2 separate regions of the Homo sapiens genome follow, and region 1 is linked to region 2. The links come from fine-mapping of genetic effects on gene expression. Tissue or cell type: whole blood. Region 2 holds a variant in brackets; the other region holds the start of a gene. All regions are shown on one strand. Distances are between the middles of the regions.

The links.
Region 1: it holds the start of ARF5, and the variant in region 2 is fine-mapped to the expression of ARF5 in whole blood (TOPMed, PIP 0.97).

The regions. Positions count from the first base shown.
Region 1 is chr7:127,585,571-127,590,944 of GRCh38, forward strand. It overlaps ARF5 (ARF GTPase 5), which reads left to right and starts at 2,841. Exons shown (of 6, transcript NM_001662.4): 1 at 2,841-2,995; 2 at 3,513-3,593; 3 at 3,915-4,024; 4 at 4,496-4,567. The coding sequence starts at 2,929. It overlaps LOC105375490 (a long non-coding RNA gene), which reads right to left and starts at 4,276. Exons shown (of 5, transcript XR_007060511.1): 1 at 4,186-4,276. LOC105375489 (a long non-coding RNA gene) reads right to left here. Exons shown (of 3, transcript XR_007060513.1): 3 at 4,299-4,381. It overlaps GCC1 (GRIP and coiled-coil domain containing 1), which reads right to left and starts at 26. Exons shown (of 2, transcript NM_024523.6): 1 at 1-26. RefSeq lists enhancers at 1-374, 1,662-2,288, 2,289-2,914, 2,915-3,541, 3,542-4,167 and 1 more and a silencer at 2,678-3,167.
Region 2 is chr7:127,640,682-127,646,055 of GRCh38, forward strand. No RefSeq gene overlaps it. Among named protein-coding and RNA genes, the nearest start is that of SND1-DT, 8.5 kb to the right of the region's middle. The variant C/T (reference allele first, on the strand shown) is at 2,964.

The DNA of each region.
Region 1 (5,374 bases), 55 kb before region 2:
CCTAACTAAAGCTGCCTGCCGACAACGGCGCTTCCGTGTCCGCTGGAAGTGACGTCAGCGAGGCGCCGCAGGCTCCGCCCCCAGTGGGCCCAAGGTAGGCGGGGCCAAGTCGGCCGGTGGGTGGGCGCGGCCTGTTGAGAACGCAGTGGGGCCGCGAGCGGCAAAAAACAGGCTTGGGAAAGGCGAAGCCAGCAAAGTCGAAGACACCAGAGTGGCACCGGTTTTGTGAGAGCGCCCAAGCTTGACCTCGGGCTACGCTCAGCGAGCGACAGAGCAACGTCGCACTGCATTCTTACCAAACACCCAGGTGAACGACGCATCCAACGATTTGGGAGCTCAGGACCCATGGTCCCTAAAAGGCAACAATTAAGACTCCCATTTAGACCACGAAAACTGCAGTCCTCTATAGCACAGTGCTTGGTACCTAGTAGGCATACAGCCTAATAGTACCCTTCCTTAGTTCTGCTGAGTTGATTCCACAAATATTTACGGAGGGCACTCTATAGCCATGTCTATCCTGAGTGCCAGCTATATACCAGGAGCTCACAAGAGTTTTGCTATTTAGTCTTTACAGTAATTCTTGTAAGCACTATACTCATTAGCACTATTTTACAGATATGAAAACATGAGGCAGAAAGGTTATACGTAACATGCCCAAGGTCACACAGCTAGTAAGTTTAGGAGTTCTAATCAGTCTGATTCTCAACGTATCACGTGCTGTGCCAGATGGTAACACCATTAAGAGACACGACCTTGCCCTCAGGGAGCTCGCAATCTAGTGAGGAACCAGACATACAAATATGTCCTGCTATCACACCAGTATGTCTGGGTATATTCAAAGTGGTATGAAAGTTAAGAGGAAAGAGGCCTGTCTAGGTGAGGCATGGAAGGCTCTTGGGAATAATACTTTGGGATTTGAAGGATGAGTCGTGATTGTCCACCTAACCAGAGATCAGGGAAACTAGCATTCCAGGCAGGTGGAAAAAAATGCAAAGACCTGTAGGGTATCGGAGTTTGACTCACCCAGAAAGCATTCAGTAGCTTAGGGTATGTGAAGGAGGTGACAACAGAGGGGCTGGCACAATAGGTAGGGACCCAACTTATGGCATTTAAATTTTATCTTGGGTTATAGTAAGGCCCTAATGGATTTTAATCTGAAAAGTGGGATGTCATCAAGACTTGTATGACATGTTGGAGGGAACAAGGGGCAGGAAACCTGTGAGGAGACTTTCAGTCATGGGGAACAGAAGGTAGTGACAACAGAGATGGAAGCAAAGAGGCTGATAAAAGAGCTAAATGTAGAATTGACCTAACTTGGTGAACACTAGTTCTGTTATTATATTGGAACTCTCTAAAATGTACTCTTCAGCCTCGTAAAAGCCTTCTTAGGGATGCAAGTCTATGACTGAAGAGAAAAGGAAAGTCATTCACTCACTCATACCTGTTTCCCAAAGTCTGTCCTTGTTACAGACTTTGCAGATCAGGATGGGGCAGGCCCTGGAGGTCTGTTCAGACCCCGTTTCTCAGTGGCCCAAATAACATCAAGCTGTATTATACATAACATTCAGTCACATTATCAAATCATTTTAAGATTCACCATAACCCCTTAAGTTAGAACAAGTCTCATTTTATAGATGATGAAATAACGGAAGAGTTATGAGGAGTGCTGAAGCCAAATCCTCAAGAAATGGCAGAATTAAGATTTGAACTAAAGCCTGAAATCACGTGCTGGCAAGTGGTGGGTGCTCAGTAAATATCTGCTGAAAAAGCAAATGAATGAGTGAAGGTTTTTTTATTCCCAGCTCAGTTTACCTCGAGTCCATAAACAATTGATCCTAGAAGCCCACTGGGAATCCAGAGTAGACATAACACCTACCCTCGCTCCATTGAGAATCTATCAGTCCAGTTCAACTGAACAAGCATTTGTTAGGCCTAATAATGCCTGGCAATGAGCCAGTCTCCACCGCAGAAGAATTTCATTCCTATTTTGCTATTCTCCTCTCAGATGTTAAAATGAGGCAGGGAAATGACATGTGAAGCTCTTTGGGTCTACGGAGTCAAGATCTTCACAAAATCCTGAATGGATGTGCAAGAATAAGCCAGGTCCACAAGTCTGTGGCAAAGTGAGGAACTTCGGCAAAGCGGCCAGCGCCTGGACTGAGAGGCGGGGCCCGCAGGGCGATCCAAACGAAGGTGGACTTCTCCAACAGCCCAGGAGTGGGTCTGTGACCCCGCCGCCCAAGGCCGGGAATCTTACACTGGTTCTGCGGATTGGGAATTAGGAAGTAGGCGTTTTGAGGAACCATGGAAGCTAGCTAGCACTCGGGCACCTTCCCCTACCTCCCGCGCACTCTTCACACGACCACCTACTACGCGCAAGTCCCTCGGTGGAAGATGAGGCAGTAAAGGGAGGACCAAGACCCCTAATCGCAGCTTCCACTCCCCAAAGGAGAGTGGTGCACACGTTCAGTGCTACTGGTTCCCAAGGGCTAAAACCGGAGCCCCTAGGGGCCTGGACGCAACAAACCAAAGCCCAGCGGCCGGCCACTGAAAATGGGGGCAGGGGCCGCTGCGGAGCGATGAATCCTTTCCTCAGCCGCGCTCGGGCTGCCGGTTCGGCGGCCACAGGCCTGGCAGGCGCGTTAGAGACCTAGACCCGTTCCCAAGTAAGGGCCGCACGGGACCCAGGCCAGCAGCGGCAACTCGCGGAGCTTCAGCTCCCCTAGGAGCCAGAGCCGGGGGAGGCGGGGCCGAGAGCCGGGGGCGGGGCCCGGACGGGGGCGGGCCCGCGGTGACGTCGGGAGGGCAGCGACGCGCGGAGGCGGCGGCGGAGCCTCCTCCTGCTGCTGCTGCGCCCCATCCCCCCGCGGCCGGCCAGTTCCAGCCCGCACCCCGCGTCGGTGCCCGCGCCCCTCCCCGGGCCCCGCCATGGGCCTCACCGTGTCCGCGCTCTTTTCGCGGATCTTCGGGAAGAAGCAGATGCGGATTCTCATGGGTGAGGCAGATCGAGCGCGCGGCCCGGACCGGGGCGCCGGCCCCGGCGCAGCCCTTCCGCCCCCGCGTCCCTCCAGCCCCGCTCACCTGGGTCTCTGGCCCCGAGTCACCCACCTCATAACGCCCCGGGGCCTCTGCTCTCGGGCGGGTCCCGGTCTGCATCGCCGACCCCGGGGCCTGACACCCGGAGCTGCGGGCCTGGGTGGGGTGAAGCTCCCTCCGCCCCAGCCCGGCTGGTAAGAAGGGAGGATTCCGCCCTTGGAGACGACTTTTAAAACGAGCGCGGCCTACCTCCCGTGCCCCTTGCCTCCCAGTCCTCTCCCGCTCCGCGCCCTCTTTGGAGTTGGCTCACGCCACCCGACTGCCCTCCAGGCCTCAAAGGTAGATAACGACGCGCACCTGGAGGCGCTCCCGCTCTCCGCCCCAGTCACCATCAGCTGTTGTGGCCTCTCCCTTTCCCTGGTCTCTAGGGGGCTCCCTCGCTCCCATCTCCATCCCTGTGCCCCTTTCCGTTGCAGTTGGCTTGGATGCGGCTGGCAAGACCACAATCCTGTACAAACTGAAGTTGGGGGAGATTGTCACCACCATCCCAACCATAGGTGAGCCCGGGGACGAAGCAGGGAGCGGGAGCGCCGCGGCGGGCCCTCGCGGGGTCTGCTCCCAGTTCTGCCACTTTTCTGGAGCTGACCCTGACACCAGATACAGCTATTTGAGAAGTGGGTCAGGGTATCTCTACGTGGATACCGGAGGCAGGGTGGATGTGACCTAGCCCCGCCCTGTTGACCGCCAGTTCTGGGGTTCTGTTCCCCTGGGCCTTGATCATTGCCTTCTGGTTTTGTGTCCCTGCTGAAATCTAAGTAGTTTTAGTGAGTTCCTTTCTTTCAGGAGTTTTCTCATCTTTTTTTTCCAATTATCTGCAGGCTTCAATGTAGAAACAGTGGAATATAAGAACATCTGTTTCACAGTCTGGGACGTGGGAGGCCAGGACAAGATTCGGCCTCTGTGGCGGCACTACTTCCAGAACACTCAGGTGGAGTGTTGGGAGGGGACTTTCTAACCCCACGGGAAAAGGTGTTAGGGCTGGGAGAACAGAATTGTTGGCCTAGGCTGGGCCCCCAGGCCAAGGAAAAAACCCTTCCCCACTTCTACCCCTTCTGTTTGGCTATCCCCTACTCACTCTTCAGAACTCACCTTAGTCTTCCCCAGCTTGGACTTCTCTTTAGAAGCAGGATTCTGGGACCAGGCTGCCTGATTTAGCCCTCATAACATGTCTTTATTTCCTTGCACATCTTTGGATAAACTACTTCCTCTTTGCAGTGGGGTCTCTAGTTTGTGCCATGACTCCTGTAGAGCTTCTATAGAGTTCTGTAAACTTCTGTAGAGTTTACTAGATGAGAAGGATTGACACAATTACAAATGGGAAGAAAACAGAAAGGGCCACACTACGGTATGTCCCAGGCAGAAGTGATTGCTTCTCCTTTCTTCCTTCCTTCCTGCCCAGGGCCTCATCTTTGTGGTGGACAGTAATGACCGGGAGCGGGTCCAAGAATCTGCTGATGAACTCCAGAAGATGGTGAGTACCCAGAGCCCTGGGAACTGAGCCCTCAGCTTGGGGACAGAGTGATCTCTGTAGTGGTATAGAAGTCAGGGAGCCCCCAACAGGCATTGAAGACCAGGAATATAAGTTTTTCTTTGTGGACAGACACATTGTGTATCTCACCCTGTTTTGGATGGGAGTGACTTTTTCACTTTTTCTGTGCATTGTCTTGTCTTTTTTTTTTTTTGAAATGGGAGTTTTGCTGTTGTTGCCCAGGCTGGAGTGCAATGGTGCAATCTCGGCTCACTGCAACCTCCGTCTCCCGGGTTCAAGCAATTCTCCTGCCTCAGCCTCCCAAGTAGCTGGGATTACAGGCGCCCGCTGCCATGCCCAGTTAATTTTTGTATTTTTAGTAGAGACGGGGTTTCACCATGTTGGCCAGGCTGGTCTTGAACCCCCAACCTCAGGTGATCCACCCGTCTTGGTCTCCCAAAGTGCTGGGATTACAGGAGTGAGCCACTGCGCCCGGCCGCATTCTCATGTCTTTACATCTGAGTCTGAGAAGTTGTGGGAGAGATGGGACTTATATGTGGCAAAGAGAAACATTTTACATTCCTGCCTTTTCCATTTGGAAATGTTGTCATTTTGCCTAGGCAAGTACTCAAATTAGGAAAAGGTCTTTCTTTTCTGGACTTATGGGCTCAGGTCACCTCAAGCTCATTTACAACTATGTCTTGTCTTCAACGGCAGACTGCACAATACTTTTTTTTTCCAATCAAGATGCTAGGAGGTAGAAAGGGAATTCCCCAACACAGTAGAGGAGACGCAGCCTGGGTCCCACCT
Region 2 (5,374 bases):
AAATGTTTGTCTCTTCCCATTAAATAATATGTTTACTTGGATCAGACAGTGAGAATTATATAACCTTAATGTGTCTTCTTTGTTTTTGCCTTGGTTACAAGTACTTCTAATTCAAATTTAAAGTTTAACCATTATAATGATCTCATCCTGAGTTTCTGATATTAGAATGTGAGCTCCCAGAATGCAGAGATTTTGTCCATTTTTGTTCCCTGTTCTAGGGACAGAGCTCCAGGCAGAGGGAAACAGCTCAAAGGCTCTGTATTGAGAGCTAAAAAAAAAAAAAAGTAGGCTGGGCGTGGGGGCTCATGCCTGTAATCCCAGAACTTTGGGAGGCCGAGGTAGGAGGATCACAAGGTCAGCAGTTCGAGACCAGCCTGGCCAATGTGGTGAAACCCTATCTCTACTAAAAATACAAAAATTAGCCAAGCGTGGTGGTGGGCACCTGTAGTCCCAGCTGCTTGGGAGGTTGAGGCAGGAGAATCTCTTGAACTGGGGAGGTGGAGGTTGCAGTGAGCCGAGATCGTGCCACTGCACTCCAGCCTGGGCAACAGAGCAAGACTCCATCTCAAAAAAAAAAAAAAAGAGAAAGAAAAAAAAGTAAAAGGCCGGGCATGGTAGCTCACACGTGTAATCCTAGCACTTTGGGAGCCCGAGGCGGGCAGATTGCCTGAGCTCAGGAGTTCAAGACCAGCCTGGGCAACACGGTGAAACCCCGTCTCTACTAAAATACAAAAAAATTAGCCAGGCATGGCAGCGAGTGCCTGTAGTCCCAGCTACTCAGCAGGCTGAGACAGGAGAATTGCTTGAACCCAGGAGGCAGAGGTTGTAGTGAGCTGAGATCATGTCACTGCACTCCAGCCTGGGCGACAGAGTGAGACTCCGTCTCTAAAAAAAAAAAAAAAAAAAAAAAAAAAAGAAAGAAAGAAAGAAAGAAAATGTAAACATTACATAACTCATTGGTAGTTTAGCCTGTTTCAATTGCTCATAAAGCAACATCTTATCCTCTGAAGCACTCTTAAGAGAGCAAACTCTATTAACTGCTCTCCACTGAACAACAGAGTATGGTATAAATAGCAAATATACTTTGATGTTTCACAAAATCATTTTATATTGGAATTTATGCCACTCTCAAATGCATGAAACAAAGACTTGGAGTAAAGAGGAAAGAGATGATTTTCCACTTTTTGGTATCTGTGGTATTTGTGTGGAATGTGGCTGAAAGAGATCATTATTCTATCTGAAATAGTTATCCTTCGGGAGAATTAATATGGAGGAGAGCCAGAAAAAGGCACCTGAAAAAAATGCAAGGACCATCCTGAAATCCACCCTGAGTTGACTGTGCCCCTTCAGCTGCCACCTGAACCCTGGCCTCTTGCCTCAGCTCCTGTCCCTATCCTCTGACTCCCAGCAATGACAAATCTGTCTTGGTGGTGGTAGCTCCACCCTCAGCATTCCAGTTATCCTGTCTCTATTCACAGGCCCTGGGGCCCATTCTCTCACTTCTGGCCTTCCCCTGCACTCCTGACCCTTACCATTCATCCAGATCCTAACCTCTTTCTTTGCTTCATCTTCATTGCTCTGGTCCCTAAGCTCTGACAGCTGACAGCAGTTGTCCTAGTGGGGACGATGCCCACCCAGTCCAGAGGTCTGGCTTCGGTCTGGATCCACTCCTGGTGATTCCAGGGCCTGCCTTCCCTGGAAAGGGCCTCATCTTCAGTCTGGGGGTCACTGATTCTATAGAAATTCATCCTGTCTTCTGATTCCCAAGTCCTCCCACTTTATTTAGAAGATTGAGAACATCTAATGCGACTATCTCAACATCTATCTTCTCAAAATGTTTCTGCATCATTACATGACACCTCTTCCTTTGCTCTTGACTTTATTTCATTTATTTATTTATTTATTTATTTTGAGATGGAATTTCGCTCTTGTTGCCCAGGCTGGAGAGCAATGGCTCGATCTTGGCTCACTGCAACCTCCGCCTCCAGGGTTCAAGCGATTCTCCTGCCTCAGCCTCCTGAGTAGCTGGGATTACAGGCATACTCCACCACGCCCAGCTAATTTTGTATTTTTAGTAGAGACGGGGTTTCTCCATGTTGGTCAAGCTGGTCTCGAACTGCTGACCTCAGGTGATCTGCCTGCCTCAGCCTCCCAAAGTGCTGGGATTACAGGTGTGAGCCACCGCACCTGGCCTGCTCTTGACTTTAAATGAGAACTGTTTTGCTATTAGAACTCCTGTTAGTAGATGGGAGAGCTGCCACCAGCCTCAGTCTTTGGATGATTATGTGAGGAAAGTCACCATCCTGGGCTGTTGTGTGAGAAAGAAATACACCTTTGTATTATCTAGGTCACTGAATAATTAGTTCTTTTGTTCCCACAGCCGGCCTCCCTTATCTAATATACAGGAGCAGGCTATAGTTAAGGCATGTGTGGGCACTGGAAGAGGTGCAGACACATTCTATTGTTGGCAGAAGTTAAATAATATTTATGATTCCATGAACTATACTATGTTGGGATCCATCCAATGATAGTAACCCCCACTAAGATCCCTAACTTTCACCCTAACTATACCTGACACTCTTAGGTTCAATTTCCAGAAATCACAAAGGATATATAACAGATATAAGGAATGCAAAGAGAAGGTAAATAAGTCATCTCAGACATTCAAACAGACTGAATACTTCAATTTAGTTCAAAATACAATTATTGAGTGCTTATTCTTTACAAGGCAGTGCCAGGCCTATGGAGAACACACAAGTTAACAAGATTCATAGGAGCTTATTGCCAAAAAGTTTACTGGTCAGTTCAACTGTTACACAAACAACTATGACACGAGGAGAGTGCAGTGCACACCACCAGAAAGGCATTATCCAAAATGTCTGGGGATAAAGGGGAAGGAAGAGTCACTTCTGATTGGAGGCCTCTCAGATAACTTTATGGGAAAAGCTGTGTCTGAACTGAGC[C/T]GTAGAACGGCATTCCAAGTGGAGGGAATTGGGTGTAGGCAAAAAACCAGGGACAGAAAGCTCTAGGTGTATTTGGGGTGAGATTTTTAGTGTGGCTATTGCTGCTGGAGCCACAGTAAGCAAGAGAGGGCAATGTACACAGGGTTATGTCCTTCAGTGGACAGGAGGCCTTTCTGCAGGCACAAGATAGCAGAGAAGTGGAGGAAGCCGGTGGTCCCGGGCCTGCACGTTCCCCGAGGCAGGCCTTTAGTACTGGGAGCCCTGGACCAGAGACAGCAATCATGAAACACACGCTTACTGCTTTTGGCTTTTTGGTTCTGGAGAGAATGAGGGGCCAGGATTCTGTCTTGAAAGAGAGAATGGAGGCCAGATGCAGTTGGCTCACGCCTCTAATCCCAGCACTTTGAGAGGCTGAGGTGGGCAGATCATGAGGTCAAGATATCGAGACCATCCCAGCCAACATGGTGAAACCCTGTCTCTACTAAAAATACAAAAATTAGCTGGGCATGGTGGCATGTGCCTGTAGTCCCAGCTACTCGGGAGGCTGAGGCAGGAGAATTGCTTGAACCCGGGAGGTGGAGGTTGCAGCGAGCCAAGATCGTGCCACTGCACTCCAGCCTGGCGACAAACAGAGCGAGACTCCATCTCAAAAAAAAAAATAAATAAAGAGAGAGAGAGAATGGAGCTTGGGAATAGGCCAGAGTTCTAGAAAGGCAGAATTGGCCAGAAGAAAAGAAGAGGCCCAAGGTTCAGGCCACCCTAATACCCATTTCTGATTCCCTCTCTCGTCAATCAAAATGCCTTCCCAGCCTCCCCTGCAGCAAGGAGAGGCCTTAGGCCTTAGGATGGGCACTTCTGGGAAAACTTGCTCTCCTGATAAAAATGAGCAGACGTTTCTGGCATTGGTCTTTTCCCTCTTCTTTTTGTTGCCTCCTTCTCCTCTTCCTCCTCCTTTTCCTTCTTGTTCCAGTGTCTGGAGCTGAAGCAGCTATTTTGCAACTACAAAGGAAAAGCCAAGGAAATTGCTGAGATGCCTGCACTGAGATGGTTGAACTTTTAAACAAATACCTCCAGCTTCTTGATCTGTAAGAGAAAAATGTATAGTAGTGCTCACTGTAATCCGCAGTTTTGCTTTCTGCAGTTTCAGTTACCCACAGTCAATTGTGGTTCAAAAACATTGAGATATTTTCAGAGAGTAAGAGAGAATCATTCATATAACATTTATTATAGTATATTGTATAATTGTTCTGTTTTCTTATTAGTTATTATTGTTAATCTCTTACTGTGCCTAATTTATAAATTAAACATACATAGTTATGTATATATGCATAGAAAAAAACAATATATATCTGCAATTACTGCAGTACTATCTGCAGTTTCAGGCATCTGCTGGGGGTCTTGGAACATATACCTTTCAGATAAGGGGGGACTTCTGTATGTTTATGCCATGGTTAATCTAGTTTGCTGTTACTTGCTGAAACTTTAACTCTGAGTTTGCTGACTTTAGGACCGACTTCAGGATTCTGGGGAGAGAAAGGAATCTTCATAATATCTTGATCATCTCAGTTTACAGAGTCTCAGAACAACATGCTACCTTATAATAAAAGTGGTACAATTGCATAAAGTTTTTTTATGCCTTTTTTCTTAGAAATTTGTGTAGCAAGCAAGGTTGGGAGTGATAGAACGTGACAGTGGCCAAAGCCAACAGCTGCAGCAGGAGCGAATTAATATACAATTATCTAAGACTACTGAGAACCCAGAGGCATTGATTAATGACATTTGGGAGAATAGAATGAAGTTTGGCCTTGCCATTAAATGACAACAGGACAGGGTACAAAGTTGATCCACTAACTAAAAGTTTTGTAATTGTTACCCAATCATAGACTTATATAAATGAGGATTACACTTTTGTAAGTCCTTTACATTGAGTTATTATATAGATAGGGCAAATTGGGAAGAGCGCATTATTATCCTTATGTTCAAATAATTTTTTTCTACTATGAGGTTTGAGAAATAATGTCTAAGCCTAAAGCATAGGATTTTTTTTCTTTTTTCTTAACAGTATGTGTGCATTCCACTTTTAATGTTACAAACTAAACTTTTTTGTTGTTTCTTAAAACTTTTTTTAAATGATGGGTTATGCTATTACTCATTTTAACCAAGTTTGGGCTACACAAAGCATACAGAAATATTTTTTAAACCTACATAGAAGATTATGGTAACAGATATGACAGCAATATTCAAATTTAATCACCTAATCTGATGCTATGCAATAGTCACTAGCCATATGTGTTACATTGATTAAAATCAAATAACATTAAAAATCTACTTCCTCAGTTGCACTAGCCACATTTCAAGGGCTCATTAGCTGGTGGCTACTGTGTTGGACAGAGCACATATATGGCATTTTC